2 separate regions of the Homo sapiens genome follow, and region 1 is linked to region 2. Evidence: fine-mapped QTL for protein levels in blood plasma. A gene starts in region 2. The other region holds a variant in brackets. All regions are shown on one strand. Distances are from middle to middle. Region 1 overlaps VSIG10 (V-set and immunoglobulin domain containing 10). Region 2 holds the start of VSIG10 (V-set and immunoglobulin domain containing 10).

The links. PIP is the posterior inclusion probability: the model's chance that the variant is causal. The UK Biobank Pharma Proteomics Project read protein levels with antibody pairs (Olink). The fine-mapping took linkage between variants from a reference panel, not from the people measured, so its PIPs are less certain.
Region 1: its variant is fine-mapped to the plasma level of the VSIG10 protein (UK Biobank, PIP above 0.99). The variant lies in the coding sequence of VSIG10. If it changes the protein, the assay may bind it differently, which can mimic a change of level.

The regions. Positions count from the first base shown.
Region 1 is chr12:118,068,395-118,073,763 of GRCh38, forward strand. VSIG10 (V-set and immunoglobulin domain containing 10) reads right to left here. Exons shown (of 9, transcript NM_019086.6): 5 at 5,305-5,369; 6 at 2,965-3,075; 7 at 2,658-2,673; 8 at 1-203. All of the region lies in intron 1 of LOC124903030 (a long non-coding RNA gene), which reads left to right. Among named protein-coding and RNA genes, the nearest start is that of WSB2, 9.9 kb to the left of the region's middle. The variant G/A (reference allele first, on the strand shown) is at 2,992.
Region 2 is chr12:118,100,979-118,106,347 of GRCh38, forward strand. VSIG10 (V-set and immunoglobulin domain containing 10) reads right to left here and starts at 3,033. Exons shown (of 9, transcript NM_019086.6): 1 at 2,615-3,033. The coding sequence starts at 2,693. It overlaps LOC124903029 (a long non-coding RNA gene), which reads right to left and starts at 2,604. Exons shown (of 2, transcript XR_007063478.1): 1 at 2,011-2,604; 2 at 627-1,289. RefSeq lists a silencer at 2,877-3,126 and an enhancer at 4,768-5,369.

The DNA.
Region 1 (5,369 bases), 33 kb before region 2:
CATTTCCCATCTGTTCTATGTTCCCATTCACCAAGGCGGTCACTCTGTGAATGTGGTCCTGCTTAGGTATTTCTTTTGGCAACTCCTCTCTCTCACGTGCTCCCTCCTGTTCCCCTACTGCAGCATCTTCCTCCTCCTCCTCCTCCTCCTCCTCTTCCTCTTCTGAATCCACCAAAACCATGACATCATCCATGTTTTGTCCCCTAATTTCCAAAGGGGAAAAATAATCAAGAAGATTTCTTATTTTTCCCAACTTCAGCCCTCACTGAATAGGAAACACTAGATTCTTTGCAACCCCATTAGTAATATGGAAAATTACAGCTTGGTGAAGTAATGAGGTGATGGTGTGGTAACCGCAGAGATGCTGCCACAAATTGCTTCAGATGATGGTATCTCATGCTGGTTTATTACTCCCCTGCTCCTTGGGCAGGTGACCATATTGTCCCAGGCATCTACCATTTCATGTCCCCTTACAGCAGGTAGACAAATGTTTTTCCTTTTCTGAAATGCCCTCATTCTGCTCTACTTACCAAAATCTCTCCCCTTCCTCATTTTGGAAGACCCAGGTAAAGTCCTCTCCCTCCTGCTAAAGACCTAAATTAATGACTGCATTTAGAGTCCATGCTATAGTTTATTTATCACCAGCTCACTAGCTTGCCTACCCAGCCAGACTTTGCATTTCAGACTATACATTTCTTTTTTTTTTCTTTTTCGGGATAGAGTCTTGCGCTGTTGCCCAGGCTAGAGTGCAGTGGCGCAATCTTGGCTCACTGCAACCTCCACCTCCTGGGTGCAAGCAATTCTCCTGCCTCAGCCACCCAAGTAGCTGGGACTACAGGCATGCGCCACCACATCTGGCTAATTTTTGTATTTTTAGTAGAGACATGGTTTCAACATGTTGGCCAGGCTGGTCTCGAATGCCTGGCCTCAAGTGATCCAACCACCTTGGCCTCCCAGAGTGCTGAGATTATAGGCATGAGCCACTGTTGTGCCCGGCCTGGACTGTGCATTTCTTCTTCTTCTTCTTCTTCTTTTTTTTTTTTTTTTTGAGACAGAGTTTCATTCTTGTTGCCCAGGCTGGAGTGCAATGGCACAATCATGGCTCACCGCAACCTCTGCCTCCCAGGTTCAAGCAATTCTCCTGCTTCAACCTCCCAAGCAGCTGGGATTACAGGCATGCGCCACTACATGCGGCTAATTTTTTGTATTTTTAGTAGAGATGGGGTTTCTGCATGTTGGTCAGGCTGGTCTCGAACTCCCGACCTCAGGTGATCCACCCGCCTCGGCCTCCCAAAGTGCTGGGATTACAGGCGTGAGCCACTGCACCCGGCCTGGACTATGCATTTCTTAAGGAAGAAGAATGAACGCCACAGGTCAGTCACCTGCCCGAGGAGCTGTGTTACATTGTCATTTAATCTTCACAAACCCCCTGGTGAAACAAATCAGGAGACTAAGGCTCAGAAAGGGTCAGGGATTTTCTATGGGTACAGGGCTTGGGAATGGCACAGCTGTCATTTGAACCCAGGTCCAATGGTCTCAGTGCCTTTTCCTACTACACCACACTGATGCCTCCAGTGAGAAATAAGCCCAGGGAATGACAGACTTACTAAGAATGGCCCTCCAATACAGGGCAGTAAAGGTAATGTTTTGCTACGAAAGATGGTCCCAGGTCAATAATATCCTGTCATTTTGAAGAGGTAAAGAACTGTTTTTCCATAGGATCATAGAGAAGAGTACTCTGCTCCCACCCAGAATCTCCTTAGGAAATGAAATACACAAGTTCCGTTTGGTTCCTTCGCCCCTACTGGGGTTTCCTTTTGGGAGGGGGTTCTGGGCATGCTCATAGTAGTCTTCCAAAACACTGTAAAACTGGCTGGGTGCAGTGGCTCGTGCCTGTAATCCCGGCACTTTGGGAGGCCGAGGCGGGCAGACCACTTGAGGCCAGGAGTTTGAGACTAGCCTGGGCAACATGGTGAAACCCTGTCTCTACTAAAAATACAAAAATTAGCCAGGCTTGATGGTGCGCACCTGTAATCCCAACTACTCGGAAGGCTGAGGCAGGAGAATGGCCTCAACCTGGGAGGTAGGGATTGCAGTGAGCTGAGACTGCACCACTGCACTCCAGCCTGAGCAAGAGAGAGAGATTCTGTCTCAAAAAAAAAAAAAAAAAGAAAAAAGAAAAAGAAAAAAAAACTTAAGACTATGACTGATTCTTTCTTTTAGCTCTTTTTAGAAAATTAAATAAAACAAATGCATGAATGACTGGCTCAAAATGTACACATTGTCTTTCTGTCTCAATGACAGACCTGCAATGTGTCCAGCCCTGAGGTTTGGCGCTGTAAAAGAACACAGACTTTGGAATTGATTAGACCTGGACCTGAAGGAAGGCACTGCTGCTTTCTTCTGGAATGAGCTTGCAGAAATTACTTCACTGAGCCTCCATCCCCTTATCTGGAAAATGGAGATGTCACCACCACCCTGAGGAGATGATGAAAGGGTTTATAAGAATACCTGATGAAATCCCTAGGCCAGTGTCTAGCACATCGTAGGTCCTCAATGGTAGTTGCTATTATTGTTCTTGTGAAAGGAAGGGAACAAAACAGAAGTGAAGACAGATGCGGGAATGGGTGTTTGGTTTGATTCTAGGGAACACTCACCTGGAAGTGTTTCCTACTGAAGAGAGAAAGGAAAAACCATTAATATCCAGTAACATCCACTTCAACCTGACAGGTTCTTAATCAGGCAAACATTTACTAGAGGAACAAATAAGAAAACTGACTCAATATGACAGGTGATAGGGTGTCCCGGGATGGTACTTAGGTGACTTATTACTGTGTATCTTGACCCAGCAAAGAAGCCCAGAGAACAGAACTTCAGGTGGGAGCAAGGCAGGGGCCATCCTTCCCCATCCCGCACCTTTTCAAAAGTCTGGAAGAGAAGCTAAAGGACCCAGGGAGTCCTTACCTTTCCAGCAGAACACAGGGCTATAAT[G/A]CAACAGAAGCCCTGAGATAATGGCCAGTCCCAGCAGAAGGAGGCTCACAATGGTTCCCACAATCCCCCCGATATTTAAAGGTTCTGTAAAGACAAATCACACCATTGATTCTTCCATCAGATATGTGTGCAATTAGAACAACACCTCCCTTTCTCTGCGTGGATCCAGTTCTTGTCTTGATTCCTGACCTTGGGTAAGGCTTATGACCTGTCTGTAATGCCAGATAAATATTTTATCACCCAACCTCAGAGAGTTTGTGGGGATCAGATGGAGCAGGGAATGTGAACAAACAATGGAAAGTTAAAATCTCTCTGTCTACCAAACACTGAGACTATTTCTAAGGCCATGGTAAGTAAGAGTGTTGAGAGTTATCAATGCCATGATAAACAGAGTGATCAACGGAACAGAACAGAGAGTCCAGGAACGGGTCCACACGTAAGTATAATTGATATATGACAGGGTCTTGAGCAAAGGAAGCACTATTTAAGAATTGGTACTAGAGCCCGGGCGCAGTGGCGCATGCCTGTAATCCCAGCACTTTGGGAGGCTGAGGAGGGCGGATCACCTGAAGTCGGGAGATCGAGACCAGCCTGACCAACATGTTAAAACCCCGTCTCTACTAAAAATACAAAATTAGCCAGGTGTGGTGGTGCATGTCTGTAATCCCAGCTACTTGGGAGGCTGAGGCAGGAGAATCACTTGAACCCGGGAGGCGGGGGTTGCGGTGAGCCAAGATCGCGCCATTGCACTCCAGCCTGGGCAACAAGAGCGAAATTCCATCTCAAAGAAAGAAAGAGGGCCGGGCGCGGTGGCTCACGCCTGTAATCCCAGCACTTTGGGAGGCCGAGGCAGGCGGATCACGAGGTCAGGAGGTCGAGACCATCCTGGCTAACACAGTGAAACCCCATCTCTACTAAAAATACAAAAAATTAGCCGGGCACAGCGGCGGGCGCCTGCAGTCCCAGCTACTTGGGAGGCTGAGGCAGGAGAATGGCATGAACCCAGGAGGTGGAGCTTGCAGTGAGCCGAGATCGCACCACTGCACTCCAGCCTGGGTGACAGAGCAAGACTCCGTCTCAAAAAAAAAAAAGAAAGAAAGAGGAGGGGAGGGGAGGGAAAGAAAAGAAGGAAGGTAGGAAAGGGAAAAGGGAGAAGAGAAAGGAAAAGGGAGAAGGGAAGGGAAGAAAGAGGCCAGGTGTGGTGGCTCATGCTTGCAATCTCAACACTTTGGGAGGCTGAGATGGGAGGCTCACTTCAGGCCAGGAGTTCAAGACCAACCTGGTCAACACAGTGCGACCTCATCTGTATAAAAAATAAAATAAAAAGAAATAAGTAGAGACATATATAGTAAAACTTAAAATTCAGGACCATGGTTACCTTTCGAGAGAGGCCCAAGATGAGACTAGGCCTACAGGGAGGGTTCCCAGGTAAAATTCAGTATGCCCAGTGAAATTTGGATTTCAGATAAACAATGAATAGTTTTTTTAGTGTAAGTATGTCTCATGAAATATTTGGGACACACTTATACTTAAAAGTATTTATTTTTCTAAACTCAAATTTAAGCAGGCATCCTGTTTTTAAAGTTCTATTGCTATTTTCTTCTTTTTGAAGTGGATTCTCGCTCTGTCACCCAAGCTGAAGTGCAGTGGTGTGATCTCGGCTCACTGCAACCTTCGCCTCCCAGATTCAAGCAATTCTGCCTCAGACTTCCGAGTAGCTGGGATTACAGGCACCTGCCACCATGCTCAGCTAATGGTCTCGAACTCCCAACCTCAGGTGATCTGCCCATCTCAGCCTCCCAAGTAATTTTGTATTTTTAGTAAAGACGAGGTTTCACCATACTAGCCAGGCTGGTCTCAAACTCCTGGCCTCAAGTGATCCACCCGCCTCGGCCTCCCAAAGTGCTGGGATTACAGGCGTGAGCCACTGTGCCCAGCCCTATCGTTGTTTCCAAATCTGGCCCTGAGACATACAAGTAACCTAATGCATGTTGGTACTATTCTGTATCCTCAGTGGGATGATAGTTTCTTAGGTGTTCATTTTGCTGTTATGCTTTACAACTGACATACACTAGATATCTATTCGTTGGTGTGTATAGATATTATGTAATTTTTGCTACCTATGGAAATATTAGTGAGTTTAGGGTTGGATAATTTCTTCCAGCCACCTTGTCAAGTCATAAGCAAGCAGATATGCCTTCTCCCAGTTGGCAGTGACCCATGTGTAGGGAGGCACCAGGCTGTCCTCATGCTGATGCTGGGTGCTCTGAAGCTCTGAACCCTCCCTCCTTCAGGCCCAGTTCCACCACTCACCTTTCACACTCAGCCAGATTTCCATCTCCCTCACCCCTACAGGGCTGTCAGCTCGGCAGATGTAG
Region 2 (5,369 bases):
AATAAAGGAACAGTGGCTTGGAAAAAAGCCGTGGTGAAACTTTAGTCTTGGAACTTGAGCTAACATTGTTTTCTCCTCCAAGGCATAGAATGACATGATCACAAAAGAAACCATTTGAAGACATTTCACTTCTCCTGGTTTGGCTTACTCCGTTCTTTTTTAAACCACTGTATCTGAAGGTGCCCTTGGAGATCATCTAGTCCAGAGATGTGGCTGCCCTGTGGGCTGGGTTGAAGATGAGATTGAGTCCTGGTTCAGTGGAAAAGAACACAGTCATCGATTTAGTGATGTCTGACATAGACATGGAAGGGGTAGTTCTTGCCTGGCAGTCCTAAACCTCCTCACTTTACTACTGAGAAAATTGAGATTTAGGAAGATTAAGTTATCACTTAAAGTCCCAAGCAAATCACTGGGAGATGTGGGATTGTCACTCAGGTCACGTTACTCTGGTCTCCTGCACCAGACAGGATGCAATGATAAAATATAGTAACAAGTTTAGAAGTCATTCATATGGTGTCCAGAGGGTCCTTCTTGCCCCCCAACCTTAAATGTACAATAGAGAACCGAAGAGGGAGTAATATAAACTCCCTGATGCTGCCCATGTATTATTATTTACAGAGTAGGAGTTATACCCAAACATTTATTTATTTTTTTAAAGCAACTTTTCCCAAGAATAACCTAGGATTTACAATCCGGGGTAGCTAGTGGATGCATATAAGTTGTCTGGCATTGAATGTCAGGAGAAAAATTTTTTTCCCCAAAAACTCCCAACTTAAAAAACAAACACACAACAAAAATACACCAAGCTCAGGAAGCCCCCTGGCATCATACACAAAGGTGAAGCAGGTCTGGGCATCAAAATAGCTGGGCAAAGGCCCAACACGGTGGCTCACACCCATAATCCCAACACTTTGGGAGGCCGAGACAGGAGGATCGCTTGGGTCCAGGAGTTTAAGACCAGCCTGGGCTCAAGCGATTGTAGAGACCGTCTCTACAAAAAAATTTTAGAAATTAGCTAGGCGTGGTGGTGCACGCCTGTAGTCCCAGCTACTTGTAGGCTGAGGTGGGAGGATCAGTGCAGTGATTGCACCACTGCACTCCAGCCTGGGCAACAGAGCGAGAGCCTGGCTCGAAAAAAATAGCTGGCCATAGCAGTGGAGATAGGTTCCCCATGGGGCGGGTGGCAGTCAGCCTGAAAGCCAGGTCATTCCAGCAGGATGACTTCATCCCAGGGTTCTTCTCACTTCCCAGGTTCCTGGTGTTCATCGTGCAGGAAACACTGCAAACAGCTGGGGAGATGGGAATACTTGACAACCACCTTTCACGTCCAGAGATGACCAACTAGGAACTGTCCTCCCCCATCACCCACACCCCAGCACAGTGATTACTCAGCCAAATGCCTGCAGGGCCAGCAGGTAACACCCATGACTGAAGGTGGCGGGGCAAATATTACAACAGGGAGAGGTGGAACAAATTTGGGCTCATATGCCCTAGATAAGAGGATGACCACTGCCCAATTCCAACTGGGAAAGCAGGCCCCGTGTTGCCAGACCTTCAGATTTTTCCAGATAAACTGGAAATCTAGAGATGTTATTGTTTTTAAATGGTTGGTTAAAAAAAAAAAAGCAAAATAAAATTGTATGAGCCTAATAATTAGGAACTCTTGGCACTTGCTGCTAAGAAGCTCCAGCATACTTTACAACCCATCTCCAGAAACGTGCAAGAGGAGACCCGTTGGGTGGAGCAGACCCGGGAACACAAAAAGTAGCGCTCTGCCTGCATCCTGGCAAACTTCACCACCTCCTGGCTCCATCTCCTCTCCCTGCACCCCAGCCTCCTCCCAGCTTGTCACACTCCCAGCACACAGTAGGCATGCACAGTAGGCATGCTGGTGAATTAAATTCAAATATATATAAATAGTTCAATCTTTTTACATTCTACATATTTTTGTAAGCACCCCTCCAATTCTTTTTTCGTAGCAAAGCAGACCATAGATGAAGCATTTCAGACCTTTTGTCAATCATGTCAAGTGTGAGGGGAAGTCTTTTGTAAGTCAGCCAAGTATTTCAAAATAAAAAGCTTTTCCAAAAGTAAAGGCGGAAGACCCCGCTTTGAAGGCGCTGGTCGGCACAGGAAGACTTGCAAAGGTGTGTAGGGAAGTCCACCGGTTACAGGTGTAAGGCGAGTTCAACCTTGGGCAGAGGGAGGAGAAAAATAAAGTGGGAGTCTCGAGTTTGAGCACCAGCGTATCAGTTACTACTAAAACCAGAACGCGAATTTACATCCGACGCTTAAAAAAAAAAATCACTTTCCCGGCACACGTGCCTCTTTACTTTGCCCCCGCACGTCGGCTCGGCTCGGCTCCTCTGCAGCCTCACCGGCTGCCCACCCCAGGAGGCTGGGGGTATCTCGCCCCGCACCGGGCGCCCGGGAAAACTCCTTCCTGCAAAGACGGCCGAGCTGCGAGCAGGAAACCAAGACCCTCCTGGGGCAGCTTCTAGGCTGGGGCCACCACGGATCCGGGCGGAGTCGGAGGGAATTGGGTCTCTCGCTGTCCCCTCCCCACCGCTGACTGGGAAAACTCAACTTTTCCCTCCAGATCGCGGCCCCTTACCTACGGCGACCCAGCCGGCCAGGAGCGCCCCGAGGCAGACGAGGACGCGGGGCTCGGGCGCACTGCCGCCTGCGGCCATCTCGCCCCAGATCCCGGCTCAGGAAACGCAGGCTCGGGCTGGGCTGGACGTGTGTGCCCCAGGGCCCCGGGGCCCGGGGTACCGAGGGCTCCTCCCAGGTCCTCGGAACGGCAGAGTGGCCCCACTTCCTCGGCCCCCAGGAAGGATGCTTGGCTGAGCCGAGTGTCCAGGGCCGGCAGCGGAGCTCGGCTGCAGGCTCGGGTCCCCGCTCCCGAGCGCCCTGGCCGGGGAGGGAGGGCGCACCCCGCCCCCTGCGCCCGCCAGCCTACTCCTGCCGGCGGAAAACAACAGGAGCGGGATCCCTCCCGCCTCCCAGCCAGGCGGGAGCCCAACTTCCTCTACCTTGGCCCGGGAGGAGGGCTTTCTGCCGAGGGCGCGCCGAGCCGGGTCCCGCCGGGCCAGGGGCGGGGCGCGGAGGCTGGGCCCTCCCCAGTCCACTCCGCCCGGGACAGCAGTACCGAGTCGCGGGGACAGCGGGCGGGACGGAGCCCTGCAGCTGCCGCAGGACGCAACCCCCGCCGCTGCCCCGGGCTGCAGAACCCGGAGGAAGCGGTTGCCAAGCTGCAGAACGCAGGACCCCCCTGGCAGTCCCCGCTGAGCGTCTCGAGGGATTCCGGTCTGTGTCCCTGGGCGCAGGGCGGGCGCCAAGGCCGCCATCGCTTCCTTTCCTTACCCTCTGCAAAAGGGAGCCAGAGAAAGATGATCCCCTGACTTTCAGCCAAAGCAGCCACGAGACTCCGGTTCTCCAGTGAACTGGCTGGGACCACACAGTGACAGCGAGAGCCAAGGAGTCCCCAGGACGTGTTTCTCAAGAGTTTTGTTTTTGCTTTTCCCCTTTTAGTTCTCCCACCCCTTACCCAGTCAGATTCCCAGGCTAAGCTCCTCTCTTCCCTGCCATGCCCTCATCCCATTCTGTCCTGGGGAAAATGCGGCTTTGATATCCTCAGGAAGAGCCATCCATAAAACAGCCCTAGGAGAAACTTCCTGTTTCAAATAATAATAATATGGCAGGGCGTGGTGGCTCACACCTGTAATCCCAGCACTTTGGGAGGCCGAGGTGGGCGGATCACAAGGTCAGGAGTTCGAGACCAGCCTGACCAACATGGTGAAACCCTGTCTCTACTAAAAATACAACAATTAGCCGGGCATGATGGCGGGCGCCTGTAATCCCAGCTACTGGGTAGGCTGAGGCAGGAGAATCGCTTGAACCCAGCAGGCGGAGGTTGCAGTGAGCCGATATCACGCCATTGCACTCCAGCCTGGGCGACTGAGCGAGACTCCATCTCAAAATAAATATTAACGTTAAAAAAAAATCATTAGTTCTGTTGTTCAACGGTCCCCTTATTGAAATGCTTCTTCCATGAGGAAATCCTCTTGAAACCACTTTAAAAAAAAAATGTTTCTCCTGGTGAACTGAGCAATGAAGCTGAACAGTTCTGCCTTTTTTACTTTTCTGTTTTTTATTTTTTTGAGACAGGGTGTCACTCCAGTTGCCCAGGCTAGAGTGCAGTAGCACAATCATACCTCGCTGCAGCCTCAAACTACCAGGCTCAAGTGATCCTCCCACCTCAGCCTCCCGAGTAGCTGGGACTACAGGTGTGCAGCACCACGCCCAGCTAATTTTTGTAATTTTAGTAAAGACAGCGTTTCTCCATGTTACCCAGGCTGGTCTCGAACTCCTGACCTCAAGTGATCCACCCGCCTTGGCCTGCCAAAGTGTTGGGATTACAGGTGCGAGCCACCGCGCTCAGCCCTTTTTTATTCTTTGCTCAAATATTTTTAAATAACTGTTCATCAGCCGGGCACGTTGGCTCATGCCTGTAATCCCAGCACTTTGGGAGGCCGAGGCAGGTGGATCACCTGAGGTAAGGAGTTCGAGAGTAGCCTGGCCAACATGGTGAAACTTCGTCTCTACTAAAAATACAAAAATTAGCCCGGTGTGGTGGCAGGCGCCTGTAATCCCAGCTACTTGGGAGGCTGAGGCAGGAGAATCGCTTGAACCCAGGAGGTGGAGGTTGCAGTGAGCCGAGATCGCGCCATTGCACTCCAGCCTGGGGAGAAGAGCGAGACTTCGTCTCAAAAAAAATAAATAAATAAAAAATAAAATAAAATAACTGTTCATCAGATTCTTGACAGGAATTTTGTTTGTTTGTTTTTTGAGACGGAGTCTCGCTCTGTCGCTGCAAGCTCCGCCTCCCAGGCTCATGCCATTCTCCTGCCTCAGCCTCCCAAGTAGCTGGGACTACAGGCTCCTGCCACCACGCCCGGATAATTTTTGTATTTTTAGTGGAGACGGGGTTTCACCGTGTTAGTGTGGGGAAAAGCAAGAGAGATCAGATTGTTACTGTGTCTGTGTAGAAAGAAGTAGACATGGGAGACTCCATTTTGTTATGTACTAAGAAAAATTCTTCTGCCTTGAGATTCTGTGACCTTACCCCCAACCCCGTGCTCTCTGAAACATGTGCTGTGTCAAACTCAGGGTTAAATGGATTAAGGGCGGTGCAAGATGTGCTTTGTTAAACAGATGCTTGAAGGCAGCATGCTCCTTAAGAGTCATCACCACTCCCTAATCTCAAGTACCCAGGGACACAAACACTGCGGAAGGCCGCAGGGACCTCTGCCTAGGAAAGCCAGGTATTGTCCAAGGTTTCTCCCCATGTGATAGTCTGAAATATG